5 linked regions of the Homo sapiens genome follow. The protein of the gene in region 4 purifies or fractionates together with the protein of the main gene of each other region. This does not show direct contact. Each region holds a gene or a part of one and is shown on either strand. Other genes may lie near its edges.

What was found.
Region 1: the proteins of PPA1 (region 4) and HPRT1 purify together in Homo sapiens (affinity purification with mass spectrometry, with the first as the bait; one large-scale study listed by BioGRID). This does not show direct contact.
Region 2: the proteins of PPA1 (region 4) and NIT2 fractionate together in Homo sapiens (co-fractionation; one large-scale study listed by BioGRID). This does not show direct contact.
Region 3: the proteins of PPA1 (region 4) and POGLUT3 fractionate together in Homo sapiens (co-fractionation; one large-scale study listed by BioGRID). This does not show direct contact.
Region 5: the proteins of PPA1 (region 4) and PLS3 purify together in Homo sapiens (affinity purification with mass spectrometry, with the first as the bait; one large-scale study listed by BioGRID). This does not show direct contact.

What each region holds. Positions count from the first base shown.
Region 1 is NC_000023.11:134,486,830-134,491,171, reverse strand, and holds part of HPRT1 (hypoxanthine-guanine phosphoribosyltransferase), read right to left. Parts: intron 985-4,342; coding exon 967-984; intron 1-966. UniProt on the Homo sapiens protein: Converts guanine to guanosine monophosphate, and hypoxanthine to inosine monophosphate. Transfers the 5-phosphoribosyl group from 5-phosphoribosylpyrophosphate onto the purine.
Region 2 is NC_000003.12:100,339,630-100,346,581, reverse strand, and holds part of NIT2 (omega-amidase NIT2), read right to left. Parts: intron 6,768-6,952; coding exon 6,647-6,767; intron 5,510-6,646; coding exon 5,421-5,509; intron 998-5,420; coding exon 904-997; intron 402-903; coding exon 327-401; intron 1-326. UniProt on the Homo sapiens protein: Has omega-amidase activity. The role of omega-amidase is to remove potentially toxic intermediates by converting 2-oxoglutaramate and 2-oxosuccinamate to biologically useful 2-oxoglutarate and oxaloacetate, respectively.
Region 3 is NC_000011.10:108,479,617-108,486,568, forward strand, and holds part of POGLUT3 (protein O-glucosyltransferase 3 isoform 1 precursor), read right to left. Parts: intron 6,825-6,952; coding exon 6,541-6,824; intron 2,607-6,540; coding exon 2,390-2,606; intron 1,761-2,389; coding exon 1,564-1,760; exon of another isoform or gene 1,544-1,563; intron 714-1,543; exon of another isoform or gene 647-713; intron 1-646. UniProt on the Homo sapiens protein: Protein glucosyltransferase that catalyzes the transfer of glucose from UDP-glucose to a serine residue within the consensus sequence peptide C-X-N-T-X-G-S-F-X-C. Can also catalyze the transfer of xylose from UDP-xylose but less efficiently.
Region 4 is NC_000010.11:70,221,616-70,228,567, forward strand, and holds part of PPA1 (inorganic pyrophosphatase), read right to left. Parts: intron 1-6,952.
Region 5 is NC_000023.11:115,646,773-115,653,412, reverse strand, and holds the end of PLS3 (plastin-3), read right to left. Parts: intron 5,864-6,640; coding exon 5,740-5,863; intron 5,521-5,739; coding exon 5,396-5,520; intron 3,985-5,395; coding exon 3,852-3,984; 3' UTR 2,552-3,851; downstream 1-2,551. UniProt on the Homo sapiens protein: Actin-bundling protein.

The sequences.
Region 1 (4,342 bases), on a different chromosome or scaffold from region 4:
GGGAGTGATGGCTAAGGGGATTGGGTTTCTTTGTGGGGCAATGAAAATGTTTTAAAATTGAGCGTGATAATGATTGCACAATGCTGCATATATATATAATCTATAGATTATATATATATAAAGAGAGGCTGTTAGACAGTGATAAGTGATATATATATATATATACATAGAGAGAGAGAGAGAGAGAGAGAGAGGCTGTTAGTGATAAGTGATCAGGAAAATAAAAGTATTGAGGAGGAATACGAAGTTGACGGTGTGAAAACATGAGATTTTATATAGGATGGCCAGGGAAGGCCTTAATGAGAAAGTGACTTATGAGTAAAAACAAGGGATCCTAAACCTTAGCATGCATCAGAATCACTCGGAAACTTGTTAAAGCATAGCTTGCTGGGCCTCATCACAGATATTTTGATTCGGTAGGTTCTTGTCTGATATTAATACTTTTGGTCTAGGGAACCACATTTTGAGAACCACTGAGCTAAAGGAAGTAAAGGTTTCCCTTAGTTTACTAGCTGGTAACCCTAGGAAACTGCTTAGCCTCTCGGTGCTAAGATACAAAATACTTTAGCACATAATAACACATGGAAAATAGTCTATAAATTATAAATATTATTTTTTATGTACCAAATATTACATAAGACAAAATCTAAGCAAGATATATATATATATACATAAAATATAAGATATATATGTATATATTATATATAGATAAATAGAGAGAGAGAGTTATGTTTAGAAAGAAAATACTTCAAACTAAAAAAAGAGAGGTAGGAAGTATACCATTCCATTATTGGTAAAAACAAATTACTAAGTAGTCTTTACAAAAAACCAATCTCACTCCTTTAGAACACAAGCCCACCATTAAAACTGATGCAGAGGAATTTCTCTCCCTGGCTTACCTTTAGGATGGTGCATACTAAGTTAGAAAAGTCATAAATGTTATATTAAAAGTAAATGTGAACTTACTTCCACAATCAAGACATTCTAGAAGAAAAAGAGAAATGAAAATCAGTACAATGAATAAAACGGTATTTCCAATTATAAGTCAAATCACATCATAACAACCCTAAGGAATTATCCAAACTCTTGTTTTTAGATGCTTTATTATATCAAACTCTCCTTTAAACAAGTGGCCCATCTGCTGGGATTTGGAAGCCTGTAATACTGAAATTTTCATCATAATGGAAATTTTAAAAACAGAATTTGACCCACCTGTTTTTAAAACACTTTCATTACTTAACAAGAGGTCTAATCTTGGGCAAGTCTTGAAATTTCTCTGGCCTTAGTTTCCCATGTGTTAAATGAAACTTGAAGCAGTTGGTCTCTTATAGTCTCCTGACTCTAACATTCTAAGAATTATATTTGTACAATAACTCAAAAATCACATAATTTAATTTACCATATGGACTCCAAAATATATTTTCTCATTAGGCTAAACTTGATCTGCATTTTCTGGATGTGTCCATATTCTTGGACTACACTAAAACATGATACCAATGCTTCCTCTCACCATAAACCCTCACTTCGCTTTCTACATTTAAGAATTTTATAGCTGGAAGAGTCCTTAACAGAAAATACCATCTAATAATTACCCCTCAAAATCGAGAAAGTCCTATCTGTTCTTATGCTAGTTATAAGAATGAGGCAGCATTTCACATAATGGTTATAAACACTGCCACAAGAAGATTCATGATGTGTTGTTTATCTGTAGCTCTCATCATACTCTGTCATATAACTATAGCATTAAGATTTTAATGTTCTATATATTCTTCTAAGACAGTGTTTACCAGAGTAAGGCACAAAAGATCCACTGGTTTGCAAGAAAGATTAGAACTTTTAAATTTTTTACCTCACCTTGTTTAATCTATATTTTTGTATGTATTTTGTAACATATATATTATTATTACCATAAATCATATATAATTTAAAATGCATATATTAGGGGTAAATGCTCAGGAAACTTTTTATAAATTGGGCATGCAAATACAAGTTTGAAGACTCACTGTTCTAGGTATTAAAAGTAAAGTTATAACCAAGTAAAGCTTCCACCTTTTCATGTCTCAAAGCAGTTTATTGTTGGAGGTAAGATCTCTTAGAAGCCTAAACAGGTCCAAGTACAGAATGAAGTAAGGCTAGCCCATAACTTGTGGCAAGCAATTCATACTATTTCTCTCATGCTGAGCTCTCCTCAGTGAAGCAGCTACTATAGACAACTGCAGCCTATTGGTAGCCTATTTTACAGGCAGGAAAAAAATTACTTTTTATTCAAAGTGGAACTCAGGACATGGGGAGAAAATGAATACAAAAAATAGGGTCAATCCAAAGGCACACAGCAAATGAGTAACACAGTTATGTTTTTTTCCCATTTGTATGAGGTCCCAGTAAATTCTAAGTAAACTGCAAATTTAATAATACACTAAAAAAGCCATGCAATTGTTCAAATGAATCCCAGCATGGTACAACGAGTACAGACACTAGAGTCTAAAAAACAAAAGAATGCCATTATTGAGTTTTTGAATTATATCAAGTAGTTACATCTCTACTTAATAAATGAGAAAAACGAGGATAAGAGGCCATTTGATAAAATGAAAATAGCCAAGAAGTGGTATTAGAGACTTGAATACAGGTATTCGGGTCCAAAGTTCATCTGCTCAAATACTAACTGGGGAAAAGAGGGAAAAATATTTATATACATATATATCTGCACACAAAAATACCCCCAAAAGACAAAATGAGGCCAGGCAGGGTGGCTCACACCCGTAATCCCGGTACTTTGGGAGGCTGAGGCAGGTGGATACCTGAGATCAGGAGTTGGAGATCAGCCTGGTCAACATGGTGAAACCCTGTCTCTACTAAAGATAAAAAAATTAGCCAGGCATGGTGGCGTGCGCCTGTAATCCCAGCTACTTGGGAGTCTGAGGCAGGAGAATCACTTGAACTGGGAAGGGGAGGTTGCAGTGAGCCAAGATCGTACTACTGCACTCCAGCCTGGGCAGCAGAGTGAGACTCCATCACAAAAATAAATAAATAAATAAAATACAATGAAACAGAAAGTTCAAATAATCCCATAATCTTACCACCAAGAAATAACTTTCACTCGTTATACTTATTGATTTTTCCATAATAAATGTACTTTACTGTGACTATCATGAAAAGAAAGTTATTTTAGAAACAGAGAACTGTTTCAGATCAAATCTATGTAGTAGAACAGAGCCATTAGGTGGGAAAGACGAGATCAAACTAAATCTCAGAAGGCCTAAAAGGCTAGGTCCATTCCAGCACTAAAAACTGACCAGACAAGTAATGGCTTCAACAGCTTCTAAATATGGACAAAGCATGCTGAAAGGGAAGGACAGGTCTAACAGTGGTATATGAAATGAACAGGAGGGGCAAAGCTCATTTCTCCTCTGAAGTTTTCCAAAGATGCTGAGGAGGACATTAGTTTGACATGACCCTGATATGGGACAAGATAATTTCACAGAAGTTTTACATGTTAAAGTTTTCTTATAGATACTCATTCAAGTAAGCAATGAACACTAAAATCTAAAGAAAGAAAAGAGCTTTAGAGTCAGGTCTGTATTCAAATTCAAGCTCTACCACTTACTGGTTCTGTGACTTTGGGCAAGTCTTTTAACCTTATTAAGTCTTAATTTCCTGATTTGTAAAATGGGGATATCGTCTCCCTCACAGGATTGTTGTGAAACTTTTATGAGATTAATGCCTTTATATTTGGCATAGTGTAAGTAAACAATAACTGGCAGCTTCAAAAAAAAAAAGCAGTAGCATTCCATCATTTATTATTGGTTACTCTCAAAAAGTTTTTCAATGTACTAGAAGATAAATATTCAAATACCTTAATATCTCCATTATTTTCAGGTAAACAGCATGCTCCTGAACAACCAATGGGTCAACAAATAAATTAAAAGGGAAATCTAAAAACATCTTGATATTAAACTACATGGAAGCACAATATACCAAAACCAATGGTTCACACTAGGAGAATTTTAAGGTACAAGAAAACTCTTTGAGATTTCTTAAAATAATAGTATGTCTGAATTTATTGAGTGATTTACCAGAAACTGTTGTAAGAGCTCTACTTGCATTATAGCACTTAATCCTCTTAACTCTATGGCTGCTATTATCAACCTCACCCTAATCACATATGGGACACAGAGAGGTTAAGTAACTTGCCCAAGGTCAGAGTTAGGAAGTACTAAGCCATGCTTTGAATCAGTTGTCAGGCTCCGGAACTCACACTTTCAGCCACTACATAATACTGCTTTGCTATCTTTTAGGAAACTATGTGAGTCTACCTCACATAGACTCACATAGGTTTGTTTTT
Region 2 (6,952 bases), on a different chromosome or scaffold from region 4:
TCTAGGGGTACTGAGTGGTGAAATCCACTTCATTTCTACTGGGCTTCAAGTGACTCTCCAAACACAGTAACAAGGACTCAAGGGTAGACCAGACCTTTATGAGCACAGCTCCTACCTTAGCTACATGATGTGTTTAATTACAACCCCCCAAAAACCCTGTCATCCATACACAGCAAAAGTCTGGGAAGCCTCATGGGGGTGAAAGGGCTGAAGATGGAGAAATTAAAGAGCCCTCTCCCAGCTTTTCTTGACTAAGGATCCCACATAGACCAGCCTAGAACCAAGCCTCCAAGCACCCACATAACACAGCTATTACACTGCCTCACCTCTCTGTGCGTAGATTTGTGCAAGCTCTGCAAACCGCATGTCGTAGCAGATGCCCAGACCCACTCTGCAGTAAGCTGTTTCCAAACAGAAAATGCACAAATGAAAAGTTAACTCCCTACAGCATGGTGTGGCAGGGGAAATCCTCCATGACATAATGATCACAAAACACTGACAGGGATAAATTAACACAGGACCTGAGGACAGAGATAATTTACAAGCTCATTCCTACTTGGACTTCATCTCATAAAGACATCATTTACATCAGCGGAGTAAAGATGAGAAATTCATTCTAATTGAATGCTTATTATCTAGATGGGAGGTACTCAACTGTAGCCTAATAGGTATACTCTGGAAGCCGTAACAGGAAGCTACAATCAAATCAAAGGGCAAAATCGTGTCAAATCCTTAGTTCTCAAATAAGCCCGAACTTTCCAGATCTGTGATGATTCTCTGCCTTTCTCACTTATGGTCTTTCAGTTAGGTTATGTGAAGAAATCGGAGAGAGACAAAAAAGAAATAAATACCTGATTGTCTTCTACTGAGATTGCTAAAGAGGCAAACTTATCTGGTACATACGAGTATCAAATGTGGAGAAACTATCACCCGGACTCAATGTTTTAGATTCTTGAAATGTAATTTTTCCAGGAACATCAATGTCAAACAGATGGATCTGCATCACAAATAATGGATTTGGTTACCTCTTTTCCAGCAGGGTCCATGGCAGTAATGACAATATCTTTCCCCGGGCAGATACGGAAGGTGCTCTAAGATTAACTATACAAACAGCACCCCCAAACTGCTTATAATCCACCCCACAAGCTGGCTGACACCTTATCAAAATGAATTCTACCACAGGGAACTGGAAAAATGATACTGTACCTTTTATAACCCCTATTTTCTAGCAGTCTGCAAATCAACCTCTAGGTTTCTCATGGGAGGTAACTAATATGTTGCTTTTTAAAAATATAAATGCTAAATAAAGACTTCTCAGAATCAGGCCGGACACGGTGGCTCATGCCTGTAATCCCAGCACTTTGGGAGGCCGAGGTGGGCGGATCACCTGAGGTCAGGGGTTCGAGACCAGCCTGGCCAAAGTAGTGAAACCTTGTCTCTACTAAAAATAGAAAAAAAAATTAGCCGGGGGTGGTTGTGCGTGCCTGTAGTCCCAGCTACCCAGGAGGCTGAGGCAGGAGAATTGCTCAAACCTGGGAGGTGGAGGTTGCAGTGAGCCGAGATCACGCCATTGCACTCCAGCCTGGGTGACAGAGCAAGACTCTCTCTCTCAAAAAAAAAAAGAAAAAAAAAATACTTATCAGAATCAAACTGACAAATTGACAGGAGAGGTGGAAAGTAGGTGGGCATTTAAAAATCACCTGAGGTCAGGAGTTCAAGACCAGCCTGGCCAACATGGTGAAACCCCGTCTCTACTAAAAATACAAAAATTTGCCAGACATGGTGGTGCATGCCTATAATCCCAGCCACTTGGGAAGCTGAAAGAAGAGAACAGCTTGAACCAGGGAGGTGGAGGTTGCAGTGAGCCAAGATCACACCACTGCACTCCAGCCTAAGCGACAGAGCAAGACTCCATCTCAAAAAAACAAAAACAAAAACAGAAAATGAAAGAGCATCTAAAAACACCAATGAGGAATAAATCTCACAAATGTTAAACAAAATTATACCCAAAAAACTATAAAAAGAAATTGAGAGAAAGTAAAGAAAGCGTAATAAATGTCAGGATATATACCACATTCATGGACTGGAAAACTTAATACTAAAAAGATATACTTCAAAGAGTTGGGTTAATAGTCCAATGCTGGCTGTTCTTCCAGCAGGTACACAGTAGCTCCTATCAGACCAGTTTTCTTGTGGTTAACTATGAACTCTGGACAAAATAAAAGGCACAACTACTTAAAGCACTGAAGAATGACCAAAACAAAGCAGACAAAATCTGAAGAGAAGAACACAGACATGTGGAAGCAGGGAACAGCCCTGGGTGAACTTCCTGGTGCTATTTACAGCTGCTACCCTGAAGCAAGGTCCCAGTTGCTGTGATAAGTAGTGGTGAAAATGACCCATAATCACACTGGCTTGAAGAACCAGAGCTGGAAACCAAGGGGGGAAATCCTGAAATGGAGAAAGCAAAGAGGGAGAGCCCTAAATTCTGCATATAAAATCTTTCTAAATCTCTGGCTGATCACTGAGTTAAATAGAAGTGGGGCAGAACAACCAGATAGAACAGAGCAGCTAAAGTTGCTGCCCACGTTTCAAAGAAGATAAGAGTTTGGTGTTTGGGTGCGGCCAAGTTAACCATCAGTTAAAACAAAATATTCAACACTTTTTGGAAGACTGTAATAGCATCTTGAATCTCTACAATATATAATCCACTGTACAATCTTAAATTAGTAGATACTCAAAGAAACAGAAGTGTGATCCAAACTGCAAAGAAAAGGCAATCAAATGAACACAGATCCTGCCATGACCCAGATGTTATAATTTTTTTCTTGTTGTTTGCTTGGATATGAGTTTATTTACATCAGGGGCCTTTTAAAGGCCTAATAGTCTCATTCTGTGGCACACAGATGTGATAATTATCAGACTTTAAAGCAGCTATAGAAACTAACTAAGCTCAACACTGTAAAGAAAAATATGCTTTTAATGAACAAATAGAAAATATCATAGAGTAATAAAAACTATAAAAAAGAAGCAAAGGGGTATTTCAGAACTGAAAATTTTAATATCTCAATTTTTTAAAATTTCACTGGGTTGGCTTACGGGAAATTGAAGAAGACAGAAGAAACAGTGAATAAGTCTGAAAGATCAACAGAAATTATCTAATCTGTAGAAGAGAAGGAAAAAGTATTGGAAAGACAAAAACAGAAAAACAGAGCCTGGTGACCTTGGAAAAATATTTAAAAATATAATATACATATACTGGAGCTCCATAAGAAAAAGGAACAGAAAAATATTTAACAAAATAGTGTCAAAAAACTTCCCAAACACAGTGAAAGATTTAAATTTACAGTTTCAAGAAGTACCAAGGAAGGCAAAGACAAAGGAAACCACATCTAGGCATATCAGAGTCAAAATACTAAGAACTAAAGATTATGAAAACACTTGAAAGAAGGAGAGAAAAAACAACAAATTATATCCGAGGGAACAATACAAATTACTACTCACTTCTCATCAGGGAAGAAAAAAAAAAAGGCTAGATAACAACTACTAGTGGAAAAAAAGGAAAACTATCAATCCAAAATTCTATTCCAGCAAAAATATCTTTCAAGAATGAAAACAATGTAAAGATATATTCATAAAGAAAAACTAACAGAATTCCTAGCTAACAGATCCTCAGAACAAAAATTCTAAATGAGATCCTTTGGTCTGAAGGATATACCAGATAGAAGGAGGATCTTCAGGAAGGAAAGAAAAACACCAGAAATGATAAATATTTGGGTAAACATAAAGATTTTTTTCTTCTTAATTTCCTTAAAATACATATGACTATTTAAATCAAGTATTCCTGTTTTGTGGGATTTATAACATATATACATGGAATACAAATGACAACTATAGCATAAAGAATGAGGGCAGGGGCAGTGGGGTAGAAAAATGGACCTATATCATTATAAGGTTCTTAAATTTCACATGAAATGATATAATATGAACTCTTAAGTAGCCTGTGAAAAGTTAAGGATGCATATGATAATTCCCAGGGCAACAACTGGAAAAAAAAAAAAAGCTAAGATGTATAACTAAAAAGCCAATAGATAAATTAAAACAGAACTCTAAAAAATATTCAATTAATCCAAAATAATACAGAAAAGATGAACAAAGGGAAAAAAAAGTAAAATGTCTCTATCCCTAAATTCAATCATATCAATAAGTGCATTAAATATAAATGGACTAACCACTTCAATTAAAAGACACAGATTGTCAGAATAAAGAAAAAATTAAGATACAATTATATGCTGTTGACAAAAGAGATCCACTTAAAATATAAAAACACATATAGCTTGAGAACAAAGAACTGGAAAAACCACGTACCAGCAAACATTAGGCATAAGAAGGCTGGAGTGGCTATAGTGATAGCAGAGATAAAGCAGAATTCAAGACAAGAGGTATTACAAGAAAAAAAAGAGATATTTCATAATGATAAAAGGGTCAACTCATCAAGAAGACTTAATGATACTAAATGTATATGATTTTTTTTTTTGAGATGGAGTCTTGCTCTGTCTTGCCCAGGTTGGAGTGCAGTGGCGCAATCTTGGCTCACTGCAGCGTCCACCTCCTGGGTTCAAGCAATTCTCCTGTCTCAGCTTCCTGAGTAGCTGGGACTATATAGGTGTGCACCACTACACCCAGCCAATTTTGTATTTTTAGTAGAGATGGGGTTTCACCATGTTGGCCAGGCTGGTCTTGAACTCCTGACCTCAGGTGATCCACTTACTCAGACCTCCCAAAGTGCTGGGATTACAGGCATGGGCCACTGCACCTGGTCATGTATACGCATTTAATACTAAAAAGATGGCAACTCTTCCCACAGTGTTCTCTATATATTCAATGAAATACTAATAAAAATTACTATAGGTTGGCTGGGCACGGTGGCTCATGCCTGTAATCCCAGCACTTTAGGAGGCTGAGGCGGGTGGATCATGAGGTCAGGAGATTGAGACCATCCTGGCTAACACGGTGAAACCAAGTCTCTACTAAAAATACAAAAAATTAGCTGGGCATGGTGGTGGGCACCTGTAGTCCCAGCTACTCGGGAGGCTGAGGCAGGAGAATGGTGTGAACCCAGGAGGCAGAGCTAGCAGTGAGCCAAGATTGTGCCACTATACTCCAGCCTGGGTGACAGAGCGAGATTCTGTCAAAAAAAAAATTACTATAGCTTGTTCCTTTGCAGAAATTGACAGGCTGAGTCTAAAACTTATATAAAAATGCAAATGGCCAAGAATAACCACCTGTGCCAATCAGTCAAAACCCTAATACATGTGTGATATAATGAGAGGGACTAGGGAACTTCATAGCAAATTTTTTTTCCACACATTGTTGCTGGCTTAGAGATAACAAATTCTTATGCCACACTTCCTACTTACCTTTCTATACTTTGCTAGTAAAGTTCCATCAGGCCCAAACACAGCACAGGTGTTATATAATTTCCCAGCATCCTCTTCAGGGATAGAGCCTTTCATTGAGAGAAGAAACATACCATAAGAAAAAGAATAGAGCAATTCTTTTGTGAGAAAGGGATAAAAGCCTGATAACTTGGGTCCAAAAATAAAGAACCTATCTTTTACGGTTTATTTATTCATTTTGTTTTTAGAATAAGGCAACACCTCATTCTATAATACAGAATAAGTATTCCCTTCTATGGGTTACTTAATCATGGTTTTTTTTTTCCTTCTTGAATATGATCTTTCAGAGATAAACTCCAGAGTGTAGATGGGATATGATTAGGTTAGATGCCAAAGACAGGTTTAAAAAATAACCAAACTGTTCCTGAAATTCAGCCATGATCTTGAGTAACACTTAATCTGTAACATTAGGGCAAAATGAGAAATTTCCCATTGCTTAACTTGAATTCACCAGGTTCTGCAACAAAACTGTGTCCCAAAAGATGAGAACGTAAAGTCAGAAGCCTCTCCATCACTGAATGCAGTTTCATCTCCAGGCTTCTTGCTTTGCCTTCATTTCTAATTCTTAATATATCATCATACAGAAAAAATTGTATTTGCTATATTTATAGAATTTTTCTGTGTTTATTTTTTATTTAAGCAAATAAAACCTTTAAACATTTATTCCAAAACCACAAAAATAAAGCTACCTTTATGTATGTGGCCTCTATGGAAAAAAATTTTTTTTCTCAATCCTCTATTAGTATAGTAAAAAACAGTCCTGGCATGATGGCTCACACCTGTAATCCTAGCACTTTGGAAGGCCAAGGTGGGCAGACTGCTTGAGCCTAGGAGTTCAAAACCAGCCTGGGCAACAAGGTGAAACTCTGTCTTTACAAAAAAATACAAAAATCAGCCAGGCATGGTGGCGCACACCTGCAGTCCTAGCTACTCAGGAGGTGGGAGAATCACTTGAGCCTCGTAGGGTGAGGCTGCAGTGGGCCATGATCACACCACTGTACTCTAGCACGGGTGACAAAGCAAGACCTCACCTCAAAAAAAATAAATAAATAAGAAAAAGAAACTCTCTGCTTCAGCTTCCCAAGCTGAAGCTTCCCAAGTAGGGAATACAGGCGCACGCCACCACACCTGACTCATTCAGATGTTTCTAATGTTTAGGTCATTATACCTTGTGGGTAGGAAGTTACCTCCAATGAGATATATGCTGCATTCCTTTGCTACTTCAGAAAGCTTCTGTGTGGATTCACCAGGAATTTTCTCTGCATATTCAGGAAAATATTTCGCTCCATATGGAGAATTAAAGCATTCCTAGAAAAATATTGGCAGAGAAAAAAAAAGATCAAAACACCCACCCATTTTAAAGTTCTGCTGTAAGAGGCCATAGCTGCTGCTTCTAGCTCTGCTTTCAGTCGAAGGGTTAAAACACAGCTAATAAGAAAAACACTGACATCTCAAGGGTAAAGAGCCTGTAGCCACAGGTAAGACTACAAAGC
Region 3 (6,952 bases), on a different chromosome or scaffold from region 4:
TTTAAAAGTTTTATTTTATAACTTACATCTTCTCTTTGTATAAAAATCACAAGCAGCATTTCTCAGATTAATTTTAAGAAATACATTGTTTAAAGGTAAGGTGCTAAATTTTTGGAAATAGGAGTGAAGACCTATTTCAATCATGTCTCTGTAATAATGGAATCCAGATTTCTGTAACAAGGTAGGAAAACTATTTTCTTTTTAAGTTTTAATTAATTATTATTATTATTTTTTTGAGACAGTGTATTGCTCTGTCACCCAGGCTGGAGTGTAGCGGCGTGATCTTGGCTCACTGCAACCTCCACCTCCTGGGTTCATACAATTCTGGTGCCTCAGCCTCCTGAGTAGCTGGGATTACAGGCACCCACCACTGCAGCCAGCTAACTTTTTCCTATTTTTAGTAGAGACAGGGTTTCCCCATGTTGGCCAGGCTGGCCTCAAACTCCTGACCTCAGGTGATTCGCCCGCCTCAGCCTCCCAAAGTGCTGGGATTACAGGCGTGAACCACTACGCCCAGCCAGGAAAACTATTTTCAAAATTCTTAAAGCTCAATACTGATAACAATGAACACTTTCATTTATTCATTATTTCATTTGTTCCTTATACGCAGTCTATGAAACAGGCAGGCATTGTCTCTATTTTACAGTTTTAGAGCTGAGGAGATAGAAACCTGGAGACATTTAAGGACTTGGGCAATGCTGGCAACATAGTAGGTAAGCTGTCTGCATATTTGTTGGGTTAATATACTTTGTTTTCCATTTCAAATGTAGTTTTCATAGGCATTAAACCTCATTCAATTAGAATAATCTGAAGCAGGTATTATTAACCCCTTCTTTTTGTTTTTACAAATGAGAAAACTGGTATTCAGAGAAATGTATAAACCTCATTCTCTGAGTCCAAATCCCCTGTTCTACTCATTGTATCACTCTGGGATGAAGAGGACACACTCCCAGATTTGGTAAATAAATTTTTCTTAAATAATTGGTACAAGGGAGTTTTTGAGCCCATCAGGTTTTGTCACATTGTTCACATCTCTCCTCTGGGCCTCGTGATAATGCTCTGAAGGAGTAGGCAGGCATCACACGGGTTTAAAGACCAAGGCACCAAGACAGGAAGGTCCCATAGTTGGTGGCAGAGGCAGGATTAGAAGCAGGCCTTGAACCCTAATCCCAACTCCCACTTTACATATATGGAATTTATGCTTTTTCTATTTATAAAAGACATTTGAGATCACTTTATGTAAAAGGTATTTATATTCCCAGTTTATGAAAGCAAATACAAAAAAAAAAAAGAAAGAAAAACGAGACATAAATATACCAAAATCCCAGGTTAATCCTTGTACTATATTTTGAGAATTAAGTACAGTTCTGAGCTATTTGGTAAACTTAACAATGAAAGAAGGAAACCACAATGGGTTTTGTAATTCCTGATATCTAATAAGAAAGTGTGAACATGTGTGTCAGTTCACAAGCCAGGTGAAATTTGCTGAAGCCCACCTATTTTGGTAGACTTTTAATACAATTTTATCGCTTCATATCCATAGAAGAAGACTCAAATGCATACCTTAAAGAAATCAAAGAAACCCATCAACTTGGCTTTTCCAAGCTCCTTTTCTTTCTCTTGGAAAAAGAAATATCCTGTAATTCCTGCATCTAGTAGCTGAGGATTTTCTTTGGACAGCTGTACCAACTGGAGCCTCTCCTCTCGGCTGTCTCTACCTCTGAAGAAAGCTCTCTCTGTTTTATTGATCCAGGAAGGCCCTACAAGTTTGAAGCCATAAAAAAATTAGGATTATGAATTTGACATTTTAATATGGCAAGCATAATCCTCTTTAATCTACCATTGTCATTTAAGATGCTAAAGCTCTTTTATCAACTCATCTTCTAAAGTAGATGTTATTTCAACGAAAATATGGGATTGAGTCTCAATTTGCCAGAAGCACTTTCAAGTTTAGAGTTTAAAAAAAACAGTCTTTTTATTTGCTGTATTATGTAAAAGAATGCTCTAATTTCATCCATTTGTCTGCTAGTGAAAGCTCACGCAAGTATTCGTGTATTCTGTTGTATAATACTAGGAAATACCTGAAATAATGTCGGACCGTGTTCAAAGCAAAAAAGAGATTCAGTGACTGGGTCCACTCACCAAGGCATTAGCTTCTTCCATTTTCTGTGTTTCACAATAAAACGTGAGCTAGCCCTTTGTTCTTACAAAGGGTGACCAGAAAAAACTATATAACTGAGGAACATCCACAAATCTTTAATCCCTAGGTTGGTCAGAATTTTCAGTACAAGACTTTTTCTAATATGCTACTGAATGCAAACATATATGTATAACCCACTCTGTCTCTAAGCTTTTTCTTCATTAATTAGCCTTGCATTTCCCTGAATACCTGTATTTCCCTGAATAGAGAGGAGATCATTTGTAACACCCCGCATGGCTTCAAGCATGGAGTGGGTGATGTCATACGTTGGAAGGACAACATCTCTTGAATCCAGAGAGCCACACCATGAAATGATAGGTATGGGGCTAGGGGTTCCATTGACTTTTCGATGCTCCAAGGGCCAATCTCCAAGATTAACATAAAATTCTAAATCTGGGAGAAGGACCTAAATAAACATATAAACAAACATCAGTGCTGGGAAGATCTCAGTCTTTGGTACTAAGTACAACAGTTCTTTGGTTTTCTTACATATTTTTGACAGGGCTAACCATTCAAAAACAGAGAAGAGAGAAGAATGCCTGTCATTGACAGGATGGCTGTGAATTTGTCACCTGTGAGGATCCTGCATGACAAATTCACTTAACCAGGAGTCAGCTACCTCTGTCCAGAGATGCATGTAAAATTCAGTGTTTGAGGCTGGGCGTGGTGGCTCACACCTGTAATCCCAGCACTTTGGGAGGTTGAGGCGAGTGGATCGTCAGGAGTTCAAGACCAGTCTGGCCAACATGGTGAAACCCTGTCTCTACTAAACTTACAAAAATTAGCTGGGCTGGTGGCAGGCACTTGTAATCCCAGCTACTCAGGAGGCTGAGGCAGGAGAATCGCTTGAACCTGGGAGGCAGAGGTTGCAGTGAGCCAAGATCGCGCCACTGCACTCCAGCCTGGGCGACAGAGCAAGACTCTGTCTCCAAAAAAATAGAAAAAGAAATAAAATAAAATAAAATGTAGTGTTAGAGAAGTGAAAATTGTGTAGAGAGGTAAGAATGAATAGCTTCGATAACCCTCTGCCAGCTGCCTAAGCAAGAGAATCTACAAAGTTAGAACCAAACCCTTGTTTTCCTTCACTGTCCCCATCTTTGCCTCATGTGCCCTTGCCTCTGGAACCTGCCAGTCCATTTCCATCTCCACGGTCAATGTCTCAGTTTAGACTCTCATCATTTCTTGCCTAGATTGCTGCAATAACTTCCTTACTAGGTGTTCTGATTCTGGGCTCTCCATACTGTAATCTGCTCTCCACAAGGCTGCTCAGATTTCCAAAACTAAAATTAATTCTAAAACTAAAATTTCTAAAATAACTTTGTTAATGTCACTACCAAGCTTAACAGAACCTTAAGCCTATGGCACAAGATCTCAACTCTCTGGCTGGCATTCAAGGCCTCACAATCTTGTCCCAGCTTGGCTATAAGCCTCATCTTTCATCTGCCCACCTACCAGGAAACCTTAGGCTACTCTCTGAAAATGCCATCCACCTCAACATGTAATTCCATTCACTTGGAATGTTTTACTTATTTAACTTGGCAGTCTCCTTTCTCATCCTCCAAGCCCAGATCTAACACCACCTCTTCTATGACTCACCCTCCTCAGGCACTTAAACCCTAGGTACTTAATTCTCTTGAGGCCTATCATCATATTGGGATATAATTATTTGTTTGTATTCACATCCCACCCCCACTTCCAAACAACAAAAACAAATCCCACTACAGTGGGCTACTCAGAGACTAGGACTGAGTCTCACTTATCTTAGATTTATTTCTTCCCCAGCCACTGGGCAAAGAACAAAAGGAAAGGGCAAGAGATGTGAATATTCACCCTCTTGCTTCCCTGTCATTATTATTATTATTATTATTTTGAGACAGTGTTTCACTCTGCCACCCAGGCTGGAGTGCAGTGGCGTGATCTTGGCTCACCACAACCTCTGCCTCTCAGGTTCAAGTGATTCTTGTGCCTCAGCCTCCCAAGTAGCTGAGACTACAGGCACGCACCACCACACCCGGCTAATTTTTGTATTTTTAGTAGAGATGGGATTTCATCTTGTTGGCCAGGCTGGTCTCAAACTCCTGACCTCAAATGATTCATCTGCCTCAGCCTCCCAGAGTGCTAGGATGACAGGTGTGAGCCACCGTGCCCAGCCTCCCTGCTATTATTTATAAACTCTTTAATAAACTCCACATTGGAAGTGCTCACTGTGGAGTAGGGTTTCTCAAGCTCATATTATTGACATTTGGGGCTGGATAATTCTTTGCGATGGGGTTGGGGGGTGCTATCCTTTGCACTGTAGGATGCTTACCCACTAGATGATAATAGCAACCCCTGAGTTGTGACAACCAAAAATGTCTCTAGACATTGGCAAATGTCCTCTGAGGGGCAAAATCATCCCTGGTTGAAATCTACTGCTATGAAGCCAGCAACATGGATTAAAGAGGCAAGAATACAGGGCACAGTTGACTAGTTGTAGCCCGGGAAGAGAGCACTACCTTTAGGAGCAGATGCCCATCACATGCTTGTATCCTCACATTGTGGGCTGGTGGTGGAGGGGTTGGGGACTGCTATTTAAAGTAAGAACTGACTGCAGCCACACAGTCAGCATACTTGGGGAATTGTATAACATATCAGGAAAACTGTGTTTTTTTTGGTTTATAAAACTCCCTTGGCCAGGCGCAGTGGCTCATGCTGAGCACTTTGGGAGGCCAAGGCGGGCAGATTACGAGGTCAGGAGTTTGAGACCACCCTGACCAACATGGTGAAACCCCTTCTCTACTAAAAAAACAAAAATTAGCCAGGCATGGCGTGCATCTGTAATCCCAGCTACTCAGAAGGCTGAGGCAGGAGAATCGCTTGAACCCAGGAGACAGAGGTTGCAGTGAGCCGAGATCGTGCCACTGCACTCCAGCCAGGGTGGCAGAGTGAGACTCCATCTCAAAGCAAACAAACAAACAAACAAACAAAAAAACTCCCTTTATGGTCTCTCTAAGTAAGAAAGATAAATATTGCCCACCTCCATCCTTCACCCTGTATGATCAGAAACAAGAACAAAAGGTGGTTTAAGTTGCTCTGCTTAAGAGGAATTTAGAGTTCTGCAAATGTGGAAAGAGAGGCTGAATAGTGAGATAAGGGGGCGCTATTGGGGGATGTGGGGAGCCTGAAAAACAGAGGGCCTAACCACATTAGTGAGAGGCTAAGAACTTAAGGTCAAGGACAGCCCTGAGAAATTCCCAGAGGCAAGTATGACTGAGAGTCTGATTAGTGCAGAGATGTCTATTTTTAAATATCAGGGTTTTTGTTTGTTTGTTTTTTAGTATGCACTGGTGAAAAAAAAAACAACCTGTTTCTGGTAGCCCAAGCTTTGACAAAATGTCCCATGCACGCTATCTTCTAGGTATGCTTAGGGTAAAACAAGGAAAATGTGTTCTAAGTTCAAGTCATTTTGAGGTGAAGAGAAGAAAACAGCTGCAGAAGGTGAAATCTAAGCAGGAGTAGTATTCAGCGGAACAGAGAACTTAAAGCGGCCTCTTGACATGGTTGTGCATGCCTATAGTCCCAGCTAGGATCAAGGCTGAGGCAGGAGGATGGCTTGAGCCCAAGAATTTGAGACCAGCCTGCTCAACACAGCAAGACCCCATCCCTATTTAAAAATAAATAAATAAATGAGACTGTTCTGTTTGGATATTGTAAATATAGACTATTTGAAAAAAAGAATAAGAAGTAACCTTGTTATAAATCTCTGGAAGCTCAAAGAAAGCTTGGGAGTGTCCTGTATGGCATACCTACCTGGGATGGGGGCTCAGCCACTTTATTCTATTTTATTTATTTATTTATTTATTTATTTATTTATTTATTTGAGATGGAGTCTCACTCTGTCACCCAGGTTGGAGTGCAGTGGCGCAATCTTGGCCCACTGCAGCCTCCACCTCCTGGGTTCAAGGGATTCTCCTACCTCAGCCTCCTGAGTAGCTGTGATTACAGGCGCCCACCACCACGCCCAGCTAATTTTTGTATTTTTAGTAGAGATGGGGTTTTGCCATGTTGGCCAGGCTGGCCTTGAACTGCTGACCTCAGATGATCCACCCGCCTCAGCCTCCCAAAGTGCTGTGATTGCAGGTATGAGCCACCATGCCTGGCCTCAAGCCACTTAATTTTAAATCTTACAGGAAAGTAAGATCCACAAAGATGGAGAACATGATGAACACTCAGGTTGCAAATATCTTAGATGCCCATTTCTCAGCCTGAAATCTGTTTCATCCTTTGTCATTATAATTCTAAACATTTAAATGTTATACCTAAATAATTAAACTGTATTATCAATTCATTCATTCTCCTACCTTTCTTGTCAATGATAACAAAATCTCATCAGAGAACATCTTGAAGTCTGTGTATTTCCCTAAAGATCTCCGGTAAACATGGTTATTGAGAATCGTGTAATGAACAATGGCACCTCTCTCATCCCCAAACCTTTTGGGGACTTCTTTTAGCATTTGCTGGAGATTGATGCTGGGAAAGGAAGCAAAATCTTTTGCAATCTGTGGTTCCTTGGTTGGACAAGAAAGAGTCTTCTGCCAGGCCTGAGGATCTTCCGGACACTCACAGTACTCATGGTACACTGGTCCTAGGGAAGGAAAACATGAAAAAGGCCGCACTCCATTAGCAAGCACCACAACACAGGGAGTCACTTCTGTCTCTGCTTCTTGGTGAATTCTAAGATTATCCAGAGATAATCTGCCCTAGACAAATCAG
Region 4 (6,952 bases):
CTTCTCAGGTGTAAAAACGAGAGATCTGTAGGTCTGTGAAAAGAACAAGTCAGGGCTTTCGGTTTCCAGCAGCAGTACCCTAAAGATTCACAAGATGGAGCTGTTACGACATGAAAGATCAACTGAAGAGCTCGCCAAGATTAGCTGTTAATTTCGTTAAAACACCACCAAATGAATACATTGCTTCAAGAAAGATATAGCAGATAGAGCTAAAATAACTAATTCAAAGTTTAGAAACTATATTGAACACTTTAATAGCAGTAAATGACAAATATGTATAGATCCTCAAAACAGTATTACCTAATAACATAAATCTACATAATTAATGGGAAGGAAAAAAATAACAAGGAAGAAAACATCCTTCAGAAAATGGTAAGAGAATTCTGCTGCGAACAAAAGCTTGAAGGTCTGGTGCTTTTTAGAAATTAGCTGGGTGAGGCCGGGGGGTGGTGGCTCACACCTGTAATCATAGCACTTTGGGAGGCCGAGGTGGGCGGATTATGAGGTCAGGAGATCGAGACCATCCTGGCTAACACAGTGAAAAACCGTGTCTACTAAAAATACAAAAAAATTAGCTGGGCGTGGTGGCAGGTGCCTGTAGTCCCAGCTACTCGGGAGGCTGAGGCAGGAGAATGGCGTGAACCTGGGAGGCGGAGGTTGCAGTGAACTGAGATCACACCACTGCACTCCAGCCTGGGCCACAGAGCAAGACTCCGTCTCAAAAAAAAAAAAAAAAAAAAAAAAGAAATTAGCTGGGCGAAAAACAACAAGGAGTACCTGCAAAAGCCAGAGTCAATTCATTGATTTTTTTCAACAAATATTTGTTGTGAACCACCAGGATGTGCCAGGCACTTTTCTAGGCTCCGAAGACTAGCAATGAACAAAATAAAAGTTCTTTTAACTCCCAAAGAGTTGGATTTCCAAATCAGGTACTTCCTGCTGGTAGCATTGGTGGTTCAGGGGTAGAATTCTCGCCTGCTAAATCAGGTACTTCCAGTTTGTAGGCCTCAGGCTACAGCTTGGGGTGAGTGACTCATCTGTAAAATCAATGTTTAGCACACTTTTTTTTTATTATTATACTTTAAGTTTTAGGGTATATGTGCACAAAGTGCAGGTTTGTTACATATGTATACATGTGCCATGTTGCATGTTGGTGTGCTGCACCCATTAACTCATCATTTAGCATTAGGTATATCTCCTAATACTATCCTTTCCCCCTCCCCCCACCCCACAACAGGCCCCGGTGTGTGATGTTCCCCTTCCTGTGTCCACGTGTTCTCATTGTTCAATTCCCACCTATGAGTGAGAAATGCGGTGTTTGGTTTTTTGTCCTTGCAACAGTTTGCTGAGAATGATGGTTTCCAGCTTCATCCATGTCCCTACAAAGGACATGAACTCATCATTTTTTATGCATGGAATACTAGCACACTTTCAAATGCATGTAGATGCTGTAGTAATACTTGTCTCAGCCAGGCGTGGCGACTAACGTCTATAATCCTAGCACTTTGGGAGGCAGAGGCAGGAGGACCGCTTGAGGCCAAGAGTTCAAGACCAACCTGACCAACATAGCAAGACCCTGTCTCTTAAAAAACATTTTTTTAAAGAGAGAGAGAGAGAGAGACGGGGTCTCACTCTGTCATCCAGACTGGAGTACAGTGACGCAATCATAGCTCACTGCAGCCTCCAACTCCTGGTCTCAAGCAATCCTCCTGCCTCAGCCTCCTAAGTAGCTGGGCCTACAGGTGTGCACCACCACACCTGGCTAATTGTTTTTTAATTATGTTTTTGGAGATGAAGTCACACTATGTTGAGCAGGCTGGTCTCTAATTCCTAGCCTCAAGTGATCCTCCTGCCTATGCATCCCTAGTAGCTGGGACTACAGGTGCAAGCCATCCTGCCCAGCTCTGTACTTGTAAGGAGGGGGTGTTCCACATACTTTAGCAGGAATTACTACTAAAGAACAACCTTCTTCTAGACATCTGGCTACAATTCAAAGAGTTGCTACTAGGTGAACAACAGTGATATTTAGGATTTTTCAGGGCAACTGATATGAGAAATTCAATGAATTTTATAGCAACAGAGTTGCTATAAAAACTATTACTGTTTTTATGCATTCTAATGATTCCAATATTCACGCACTTAAAAAATACTGATTTTAAGAAATTTCGTACTACCCAGTTACAAATTCATTCCTTCTTCTTTAATCCCAACTGGTTTCAGCTTTTACTTAGCTGGATCTTGGATTTACTATCTTGTTACTCCCACTGTTAGGACTTCCCAGAACTCCATCCTCCAATCCTACCATGCTTTGGAGTCTCAGTCATTGCTCTGGCATCAGAGCTCTCAGCTCTCTGTTAACAGTTTCAGAAAAGAAGGAAGTTAAGTCTCCCTAGAGGGATGATTTTGATAAACTCAATAATTACCTTGCTGATAAACCAGTGGGGGATAAGGGAAAAGGCAAACTATAACTTTAGCTCTTGTTCCCAAAGTCAGAAATATAACTGTCTATTTCAGGCCAGGTATGGTGGCTCGTGCCTGTAAACCTAGCACTTTGGGAGGCTGAGGCAAGAGGATTGCTTAGACTAGGAGTTCAAGACCAGCCTGAGCAACATAGACAGACCCTGTCTCTACAAAAAAAAAAAAAAAAAAAAGTCTATTTCCCTTCCCAGATTTACAATCATTTTATCAAGTAGTCAAGATGTTACAACAAAACATTAAAGATGTCCAGATTCTAAGGAAACTGGAAACTCAACAACTCTACATTATGTCACTCCATTAATCAAAAATATTTAAAATAAAAATGTTTCAGGAATAGAAGAAATATCTCCTATATCTTGGTTAGGTGTGTAACTTCACTAATTAAACAGGAATATTAATCACAGTAGTATGGTGAGGCCCCGTCTCATCTCCAAACTGGTTAGGGTCTTATGGACCAAGTCAGTAGTCTGACAAGTTGTTTACTAATAAATAGGCTACGGCCATTTGGTAGGCTGTTATTACTAATGCAGTTAAGTACATATATAGGGAACATGCTCTTAATTTAATTACAGCACGTCTTTAAATCCTAGCAGTTAAGTTCAATGTGTCTTTATTGAGACTTATTTCTTATTTATTTATTTTATTTTATTTTTTGAGACAGAGTTTCGCTCTTGTTACCCAGGCTGGAGCACAATGGTGCAATCTCGGCTCACTGCAACCTCCGTCTCCCGGGTTCAAGCAATTCTCCTGCCTCAGCCTCCCGAGTAGCTGGGATTACAGGCATGCACCACCATGCCCAGCTAATTTTTGTATTTTTAGTAGAGACAGGGTTTCTCCATGTTGGTCAGGCTGGTCTCGAGCTCCCGACCTCAGGTGATCCGCCCACCTTGGCCCCCCAAAGTGTTGGGATTACAGGCATGAGCCACCGCGCCCAGCATTGAGATTTATTTCTAACCCTGGATTTGGTAAATTCGATGAACTATACTACAGAATTATACCAAGTGGCTGACATTAGCATTTTCAAGTTGACTCATTGTGTGTTTCTCTAGATAACTTCAGAAATCTAGTAAATACCAGGCTTAGAAAGAAACACAAAAATCACCCTGTGGTCCCACCACTCTTATTTATTTATTTATTTATTTAGAGACAGAGTCTCACCTGTCACCCAGGCTGAAGTGCAGTGGCATGATCTCAGCTCACTGCAACCTCCGTCTCCGGGGCTCAAGTGATCCTCCTACCTCTGCCTCCTGGACCACAGGCACCTGCCACCACACCCAGCTAATTTTTTTTTTTCTATTTTTGGTAAAGACCGGGTTTCACCATGTTGCTGAGGCTGGTCATGAACTCCTGAGCTCAAGCAATTCGTCCACCTAGGCTGCCCAGAGTGCTAGAATTACGGGCATAAGCCACGGCACCCAGCCCACCCCCCATTTTTTAATCTTTATTGTTTTGCAATAAAATTTGGAGAAAAAACAGTAGAGGTAGAGAGAATTTTCTTCTAAATTTATCTAGAGCATAAACATAAAGCAAGAAACTAATCCAAACCAAGCTTTAACTTTTTTTTTTTTTTTGGAACTTATAGACTAGTTTTGGAGTATAAAATCCCTATCAGAAGAGCTCACGTAGTTAAAAGAAAATGTTCCATCCCCATAAAGATGCTTTCGAAAAGGTATACCAGATTTCACCATTTCCAAGAATACTTTATCTTATTCACTGCTCACCAAATGACAATGGCTCTTAATTCTAAGTTTTGGCTGTAAAGTTGGTTATATGATTCTAGAAGGATATACTCTAAGTTGTTAAAAGTATATGGATACCTGAAGTATTTCATCGAAAGTGACAGAAGTCTATTTGAGAAGCTATCAGAAAGAAATACGATGACCGAAGTTCACACTGTTGTGCCCCTTATTCACTTAGAATTGTGACTTAGCAAAGAAAGACATGACTTACACCAACCCAAAAAACATTTGTTCAACAAATTGTGTTAAGATTCCAAGGGAGATCATTAACTTATTAAAGTAAAGAAATTAAAACACATACACACAAAACTTTTAGTAATACTCATTTGTTTTCCAGTTACATAGATTTTCTACTCATTGCAGCTCAAACAAATGCCTGTATTTGCTACTACACACTACCATATGTACCTGTGTAGAGCAATAACTTAATTTGTCATGTCATAATTAAGAATAAGCTGCTGGCTGGGTGTGGGAGCGCACACCTGTAATCCCAGCACTTTGGGAGCTGAGGTGGGTGGACTGTTTGAGCTCAGGAGTTCGAGACCAGCGAAAGCCTGTCTCTACCAATACAAAAAAATTAGCCAGGTACGGTGGTGTGTGCCTGTAGTCCCAGCTACTCAGGAGACTGAGGTGGGAGGATTGCTCGAGCCCAGGAGATGGAGCCTGCAGTGAGCCAAGATCACAGCACTGCATGGGTGACAGAGTGAGACCCTGTCTTAAAAAAAAAAAGAAAAAGAAAGAAAAAGCTGCTATTTTTGCTATTTTTTCTTTTCAGATAAGCTTTATGATGACTAAATTTTGAAAACAGATATTCTAAGCATAATCTGTTTATTTTCCTGTCTTTACAAAATCAAGCAAAAGGGTCTGCATTTCCAGTTGTCAAACTTTTCTGTTTTGCAATGACTAATAATTTTGAGCGTGGAAACTTCCCCAAGAAAAATGCATTTATGCCAAATTGCAGATAATATTCTGTTAAGTTTCTGAAGCATCAATCTATTTGATTAGAGGCTTGACTTTCTTTCAGAAGGGGAAAAAAGAAACACATATTCCATATTTATATATGCTTCTATACGCTCCCAACAATCACCTGAAAAAAATAGAACCCTACATTGTCAGAACTAGAATTTAACATGAAAGTTTAAGATATGGAATAGAAAAATATCTGATTTCTAAAACTAAAAAATCAGGTCATGATATTTGAGCACTTTAAGATTTAGAGAAAGCTTTTATCTACCCAGTGTTTCATACTGTTTATACCATGTTTTGGAAAATTTCTGGTATCTCAGAAGTTTTATGTTAGAAGATACTCTGAGCTATAGGTGCTTTTATATTTGATCCTAAAATTGACCCAGAGCAAAGGACATCCCTACAATTTAAAAATATCCAGTGAGCCCTTGCCTTTACCTTCTCTACCCACTGGATTCGGAAATAATCAAAGCAGGGTACGCGAGTCACAAGATTTTCCAGAACTGGCTGGACTGATTACCTAATGGCATATGCCAAACTGAATATCCACATTAAAAGGTCCTGATATGGGTTGGACACAGTGGCTCACGCCTGCAACCCCAGCACTTCTGGAGGCTGAGGTGGGCAGATCGCTTGAAACCAGGAGTTCGAGACCAGCCTGGGCAACATAGGGAAACCCTGTCTCTACAAAAAAATAGAAAAATTAGCTGGGCGTGGTGGTGTATGCCTGTGGTTCCAGCTATTCAGGAGGCTGGAGCAGGAGGATCACTTGTGCCTGAGAGGTTGAAGCTGCAGTAAGCCAAGATCATGCCACTGCACACCAGCCTGAGTGACAAAGTGAAACCCTATCTCAAAAAAAAAAAAAAAAAAAAAAAAAGTCTGATATGGATATGAGCCCTTGGGCATTTTTCCTTAGTCTGATATCAATATGAGCCCTTGGACATTTTTCCTTAGTGGAGCTGACTGAGCTGTGTTAAAGGTACATGCTCACTAGATCATGACATTCCCTCATTATAATCCCTCGGATGACTGACCATATTAGGAATAAAGTCCAAGGCCAAGCCCGTGAGAATGTATTCATGTAAACTTAATCACAATAGATTTTTTATACAAAAGAAAGAAAATCACACTCTAATGAATCAAGTTAATCAGATTTTTTTTTTAAGGCTATAATCCAAAATGATGTCTACCACACCTTTATTTGTGTTTTAAACAAGTAACTTCCTTTAAAACAAAACAAAAGAATTCCTTCCAGCCTCTCAGGCAGGAAGGCTTCTGCCCAAGGTCCACTGAGGTCTAGACTACTGGTAAAATCCAGAGTCATAAGAACTTGTGCTTTTGAGCTGGGACAGGGCGTGCCAAGGGCAGAGTCTTCCTTTGAGTAATCCACTTTATAGACACAACCAGTCCCTTATAAGGCTTCAGTGTCTGAGAGTAATCTAAGTGAACACACTTAACAGGACACCAAAATGTAGCCTGTTTCCTATTTTGGAGTAACCTGAAGCAGCAATAAGAGTAGGTACCAAAACATCTATGATCATTCTGGTCCTTGGTAGGAATACAGTCACTTAGAACACTGGGAAAATAGCTCTATGTCAAGAAAATGTTTTCCTACCTGTAGCATACCTGTATGCCAGGGTATTATCAATAAACTTAGGGTCATCATTTTATACCTCTTCATTGCTCAAAATGGTCTGAGATGCTACAGTATGATATACATGCTATTATACAACAAGCAGATAATTCAAGCCAACCCAATGGGGCCAATT
Region 5 (6,640 bases), on a different chromosome or scaffold from region 4:
TGTATGGGTAGTTTATTGAGGTTAGTGGCTTTTTACGGTTGTCTTGGACAGATGCTACAACAACAACAACAAAAAAAGAGCAGAACACATTCAAAGAAAGCAGAAAGATGGAAATCATAAAGATAAAACCATACATCAATAAAATAGAAAAACAAAAACAAAGAAACAAAAAGCTAGTTCTTAAAAAAAGTAATGAAATTGATAAACTTCTAGCAAGACTGACAAAGGTTAAAAAGAGAGAAGACATAAATCACCACTGTGAGGAATCAAACTGAAGATATCATTACATATCCTGCAGCTATTAAAAAGATAATTAAGGAAATACTACGAAAACTTTATGGTCACAAATTCAGCAACATGGAAGAAGTGAACAAATTCCTCAAAATTCAAAAGCCACCCAAAACGCAATCAAGATTAAATAGATAATCTGAATAGCCCCATAACCATTAAAGAAATATCTCCAGGTTTGGACACTTTTACTGGAGACTTGCACCAAACATTTAAATAAAAATTAACGTCATTCTGAGCTTAGATGCAAAAATCCTCAATAAAATATTAGCAAATAAAATTCAACAATGAATAAGAATTATACACTGACCAAGTGGGATTTATTCAGGCATGCAAGGTTTGTTTAATCTTTGGAAACTAATCAATGTAATCCACCGTATCAATAGGGTAAAGAAGAAAATTTTATGATGATATAAATTGATGCAGAAAAAGCATTTGATAAAATCTACCCACCCATTCATGACAAAAATTTAAAAAATCAATCTCTCAGCATATTAGGATAGAGGGGGAATATCATCTTTATTTTCTTTAAGAGATGGAGTCTTGCAGCCCAGTTTAGGATGCAATGGTTCTATCACAACTCACTGCAGCCTTGATCAACTGAACTAAGTGATTCTCCTGCCTAAGCTTCCCAAGTAGCTGAGACCACAGGTATGCACCACCATGCTCAGCTAATTTTTTTTTTTTTCGAGATGGAGTTTAGCTCTTTCACCCAGGCTGGAATGCAGTGGCGCAATCTCGGCTCACATCAACTTCTGCCCGCAGTGTTCAAGTGATTCTCCTGCCTAAGCCTCCCGAGTAGCTGGTGGGACACATTATGGTGTCCACCACCATGCCTGGCTAATTTTTGTATTTTTGTAGAGATGGGGTTTCACTATGTTGCCCAGGCTGGTCTCAAACTCCTCACCTCAGGTGATCCACCCACCTTGGTCTCCCAAAGTGTTGGGATTACAAGCTTGAGCCACCGCACCCAGCCTCATGCTTAGCTAACTTTATTATACAGACGGAGTCTCCCCGTGTTGTCCAGGCTGGTCTCAAACTCCTGGCCTCAAGAAATCCTCCTACTTCAGCCTCCCAAAGTGCTGAAGTTACAGGTGTGTGGGGAAAAGATGGGGGATTCACCATGTTGGTAGAGATGGGGATTCACCGTGTTGCCCAGGCTGATCTTGAGCTCCTGAGCTCAGGCAGTCCACCTGCCTCAGCCTTCCAAATTGCTGGGATTACAGTTATGAGCTACCACGCCCAGCAGAATTCTGAATGTGTTGCTAATTTTGGTCCACATTCTTATTTGTTGAAATTAGTTTTTGGAGGAAAAAAATTGTGTGTCAGGTCCACTGCTTTATATGAACACTTAACTATCCCATGGTACACTCCTACAGGCTGTGGGCCCTGTATAGTGAACCACCCAAGAAATCAGCTCCTTTTTTGAAGAAAGGGCCACATGTAATATATCTTTCCTATCTTGTTAAAGAGGCACTTCAAGGCGTTAGGGCTTACAGAGAAGAACCTTTGTACTTCGACGAAGATGAACGTGAATGAGTATGGCAGATTCAAGGCATAAGACAGGTCTTAAGATGTAATTGTCCTTACTTCATCAGTTACCCTAGTATGTTTGCAGATTTGTCTTTTTTTCACTCATAAATCCTATTTTTATATTAAAAGAATCTATAATCTGAGACTGAACTCACTTTTTTAGTTATCTATATTTTGATCTTTTTTATTATACATATATATTTGCAAAAGTAGAGTTGTCAAATATATCCTTTTTTAATTTTATGTCTTTGGAATTCAGGTGATATTTAAAAAGGCCTTTCCATCTCTCAGATTATAAATGCAAAGTATTATATAGTATCTCTATGTAACCAAATCCTCAGTAGACTACACCTTATATTACTCATTCACACAAAGGCTTAAATGGGCACTGATTGTCCACAAGGGATGATTTTGCCACCCAGGAGACATTTGGTTATGTCTGGAGACAATTTTGGTCAACACCACCGGGCATGTGCTGACATCTAGTGGGTAGAGGCCGGTAATACTGCTAAACCTCCTACAATGCACAGGGTAGCCCCTTCTCCCCACCCCAACAGAGTTATCCAGCCAAAAATGTCATATATGGATGAGATTGAGAAGATCTACTATGAACCATTTCTCCTCTGTGACTGTTCAGATCCCCACTGTTTCAGGATATGTATATCATAGAACATTGAAAAGACTGAGGGAGGTGGAAAAGAAAGAAAAAAGCAGGAACTGGATAAAGAAATTTTGGTAAATTGGAGAAAACCTTTTTACTTCATTTGTACTGTCCTTAATTCAGTACCTCTAATTCAGCTCCCAAAACTCAAATTTAACAAACACCATTTTACAGAATACATCAGAAAAACAAAAAGAAAAAAATCCTGACAAACATTGGCATACTTCCTAAGAGACAAAAGCATGAAGAACAGACTAATTATTATGTAAATGCCTTTATTTGAACTACTACATTGCTACCAGATTACATCACTTTTCAGAGTTAGAGTAACATAATACCTTGGAAACTATAGCAAACAGCTTGACAAAGCAAGAGTACATTAATTCCTACATATATACTTTTATTTTTAGTGACCACATTTCTTTGTTTCAGGTGTAAAATTAAAAAATATATTGTACACTTAGCATACTTGGCCTACCAAATCCCGTCTAAGTTCTGAGCACACTCTCTCCTCAAAAGTATCATATTCAACAGCATTTTAAATTTAGAGAGAGAGTTTGATGATACAGGTTTTAAAACAAATAAGCATGTATTGAACCAAGTGATTTAAGACAAAATATTTCAATTGTTTACAGCTTGGGTATGAGAGGGAAGATGCAAATTTAAGGTACATTTTTCTTCTAGCTACGATGTATGTTTTACTTACTTGAAGACCCCTTAAAAAAAGTAGCAAAATCAGCAGTCTTGTTTAATATAATCAAAATATTCTTAAATGTACAAAAAAGGATCATGTAGAAAGAATACTGTAAAAAGATACTGATCTTAAGAATAAAAGAATAAGAAAAGCTTCTATTACATTCTGCACAGCCAGTTACTTCGGCAAATTTTCAGTACTACAAAGATAAGCAAAGGATACTCATATCCAAATACGCTCTGACCATAGTTCTCGAATAAGAACTAGCATACTGGATGGAAAGCAAAATTACTGTCTAATAATATTCATATCCCATCATCTAAGCAAGTCCCAAGAGAGGGACATTCTAAGAGGGCAAAAGATAACAGAGCAAGAAATAACATACAGCAATGGGAAATGTCAAGGGCAGCATTCTAGGAGGAGAGAGTAAAATGTTTTGGCTATGAGCACATTTCAGGCGTGCCTGACAAATTCAACTCTGACTATGGGAAAGAGGAGTTGTTTTTCTTAAACCCTTTCCCCTGAGGGCTCTCATGATAAGCTAGTCCTGTTAATCAAAATGAAAAGTCCTTTGAATGGCCAAGAGTTCCTTAAGCCATAAGCACTTCACCTGGAAATAGCTGACCTGCGAATCATGCACCTGGGAGCATGGCTGTTTTATTCAGATTGGTTATTTTACACTCTCTTCATTCCCCTGCCCATCAAACATGCAAACACAGTCATGACCATCTTGGGCTTTACTTCCACAAGGTCTTCAGGGAGAGCATACACTCTGGCTCCGATTCTTCTAGCCATTGACACTGCATACCTATTTTAGGGGGAAACAAAATCAGGATGAAATTCTTGTCAGTTAAGGACACCACGTAAGACATCTATTTCCTCATATATAATTATTATGCTGGGATGCAAAAATTCCATATTGATAGTTCCAATTAGAACAGTTTTGCTTTTTGTTTTCTTTTGATTTGGGTTTTGATTTCACTTTGAAGTTACAGTAGGTTTTTAAGCTCTATTATTTGGGGCTAATAATATTTATTCACTCTTTTTCTCCAATGTGAGGTGAGAATTAAGCTTGAAGCACCAACTTTATATATATAATTACCTAGGCTGTCTATACAATCCATGTTAATATTCTCATTGCACACATAATAACACACACTCAAGTCATCTTAGAGATATGAGGTGGAAAATCATGCTAGATGCAAAACCCAAGTTGTTAGGCAGATGCAATGAATACTTCCAAGTATTCATGAGAGGGGAGACAGTCTACGTGGTACGTGGACAGAGTGGCTGGACCAAAAACTAGAAAAGGTAGACGAAGGGACAGAAGAACTGAGATGTCCAGGTAGGGAAATTTTCAGGAACACATCTCAACTAATCCGTGAAGTATTTCTAGGTGTGTTGGAACCAGAATCTTTAAAGATAATTAAATCATCGAGTTTCTAGAAAAAGAGATTTCAAGAGTTCTTGATATATTGTGGATATTAGACCTTTGTCATATCTGCTAGAAATATTTTTCAAGGAAAAAAGAAATAATGTGCCTAACTCCAAAGTTTTGCAGGAATGCTTCTTAGCTGTTCGGTAATGCAGGACTGTGGATGGATTTTCAATGTCTAACTAGTAAGGTTTTCATGGGTCACCCATGAAGCCAGGTCACACTCTAGGCCTTTGGTGAAGAAGAAAATAGGCTGGTGGAAAAGACCTTCTGAATATTGTTGAAATGCAAGAAACTTTCAAGGCATAGTCTTCTGTGGAGGGCTAGCAAGCATTCTGTTAATATGGGAACTGATGAAGATAAATTCAATAAATGTAGTAAGAATGATCTATGTATAGTAAAAGAGACATAAGTGGATAATGCGTTTTTTAAAAAAAGAATGAGACAGACAGATGAACACCCTAAGCTCTTATTTTCCTTGTAAAGTTTTACCTGATTTGCATTAAAATACATGCTACATTATTTCTGTAATCCACTGAAGCAACAACCGACTAAGCACCTAGTAGGCCAAGCACAAGGCTAGGCTCTTATAATTTTTAAAAATTTAATCTTTATAAAATCTAAGGTAAGTATTATTGCCCCCAGTTTATTGATGAGGAATCTGAGGCTCCAAGAGGTTTCTCCCAAGGTGACACCACTCTTAAATGGCAGAACCTGAATTAGAATTCAGATCTGTCCAGCTACAAAGCTGCGTTCTTTTCATACTATTAGCAGTCTCCCTTACTTGGCATTATTGTGCTTGTCATCTTCTGTTAGATTGCCACTCTTCACAAGGTCATAGTTTATACAGCCTGGCTGGATGGCATCAATTAAATCCACAACTGCCAAACTGGAGCTGATCGTCTTGTCCTAGTGTGAAAGGAGAACAAATCTGAGAATTTTGATACATACAAATTAACATGTGCTTACTTATATCAAGTGCCAAAAACAAAGCCCAGTGAATTCGTAAAGAATTGTGCCATTAGCCCAACACTAATTCTCACTCACAAAGAAGCCAAAAGTTGCCTTCCCAAATGATAGATGTTATCCAGCAAACATAATATTTAATAGTCAAATATGGATTCTGACCTTAAAACTCTGAATGGAAGTTGATTTTCCAGCTTCACTCAACGTTCTGTTCACCCAGTTCACAATGATGTCGTCATTGGCTTTCTGACCATCTCCAAGATCTTCCAGGACATTGAGGGTATATCTAAGAGAGGCAGCAGAAGAAAACGTCACCATCTACTTTATGAGGAAAAATGCAAACATCAGAAAGATGCTTTATCTTCCACTTTTTATATTTCTTAAATTTTTCTTCTTTTTTTTGAGACGGAGTCTCGCTCTGTCGCCCAGGCTGGAGTGCAGTGGCGCAATCTCCTGCTCACTGCAAGCTCCGCCTCCCGGGTTCACACCATTCTCCTGCCTCAGCTTCCTGAGTAGCTGGGACTACAGGTGCCCACCACCACGCCCGGCTAATTTTTTATATTTTTAGTAGGGACAGGGTTTCACCGTGTAGCCAGGATGGTCTTGATCTCCTGACCTCGTGATCCACCCTCCTTGGCCTCCCAAAGTGCTGGTATTACAGGCGTGAGCCACCACTCCTGGCCCCTATATTCCTTAAATTTCAAGGACTAAAGATTTCATGGAAAGAGATTCACACTATGTGAAAAAAATATTTCAAGCAGTAGTGGCTTGCTACTGATCTACTCTTTGTAGTGGTGAGAGAGGAGCAGATTGACAGTGCTTTAATGAGCAGGTCCAACAGCCCACTGTAGGCACATTTTGTACTATTCCAATAGCGGTAATGGCATAAAATAAGCTGTGCTTTGGCTGGTGCCCAGTCATAATGAATGCTTTTCAGCATTATAGTGATCTTCATCAGCATTACAGAGAGAGATCTTTATTTTCAAATGAGCATGAAGATGTTCATAATTTTGTTCTGACAATTTTTTAATTCACTGACACTAAACGAGGCCGAAATCTGTGT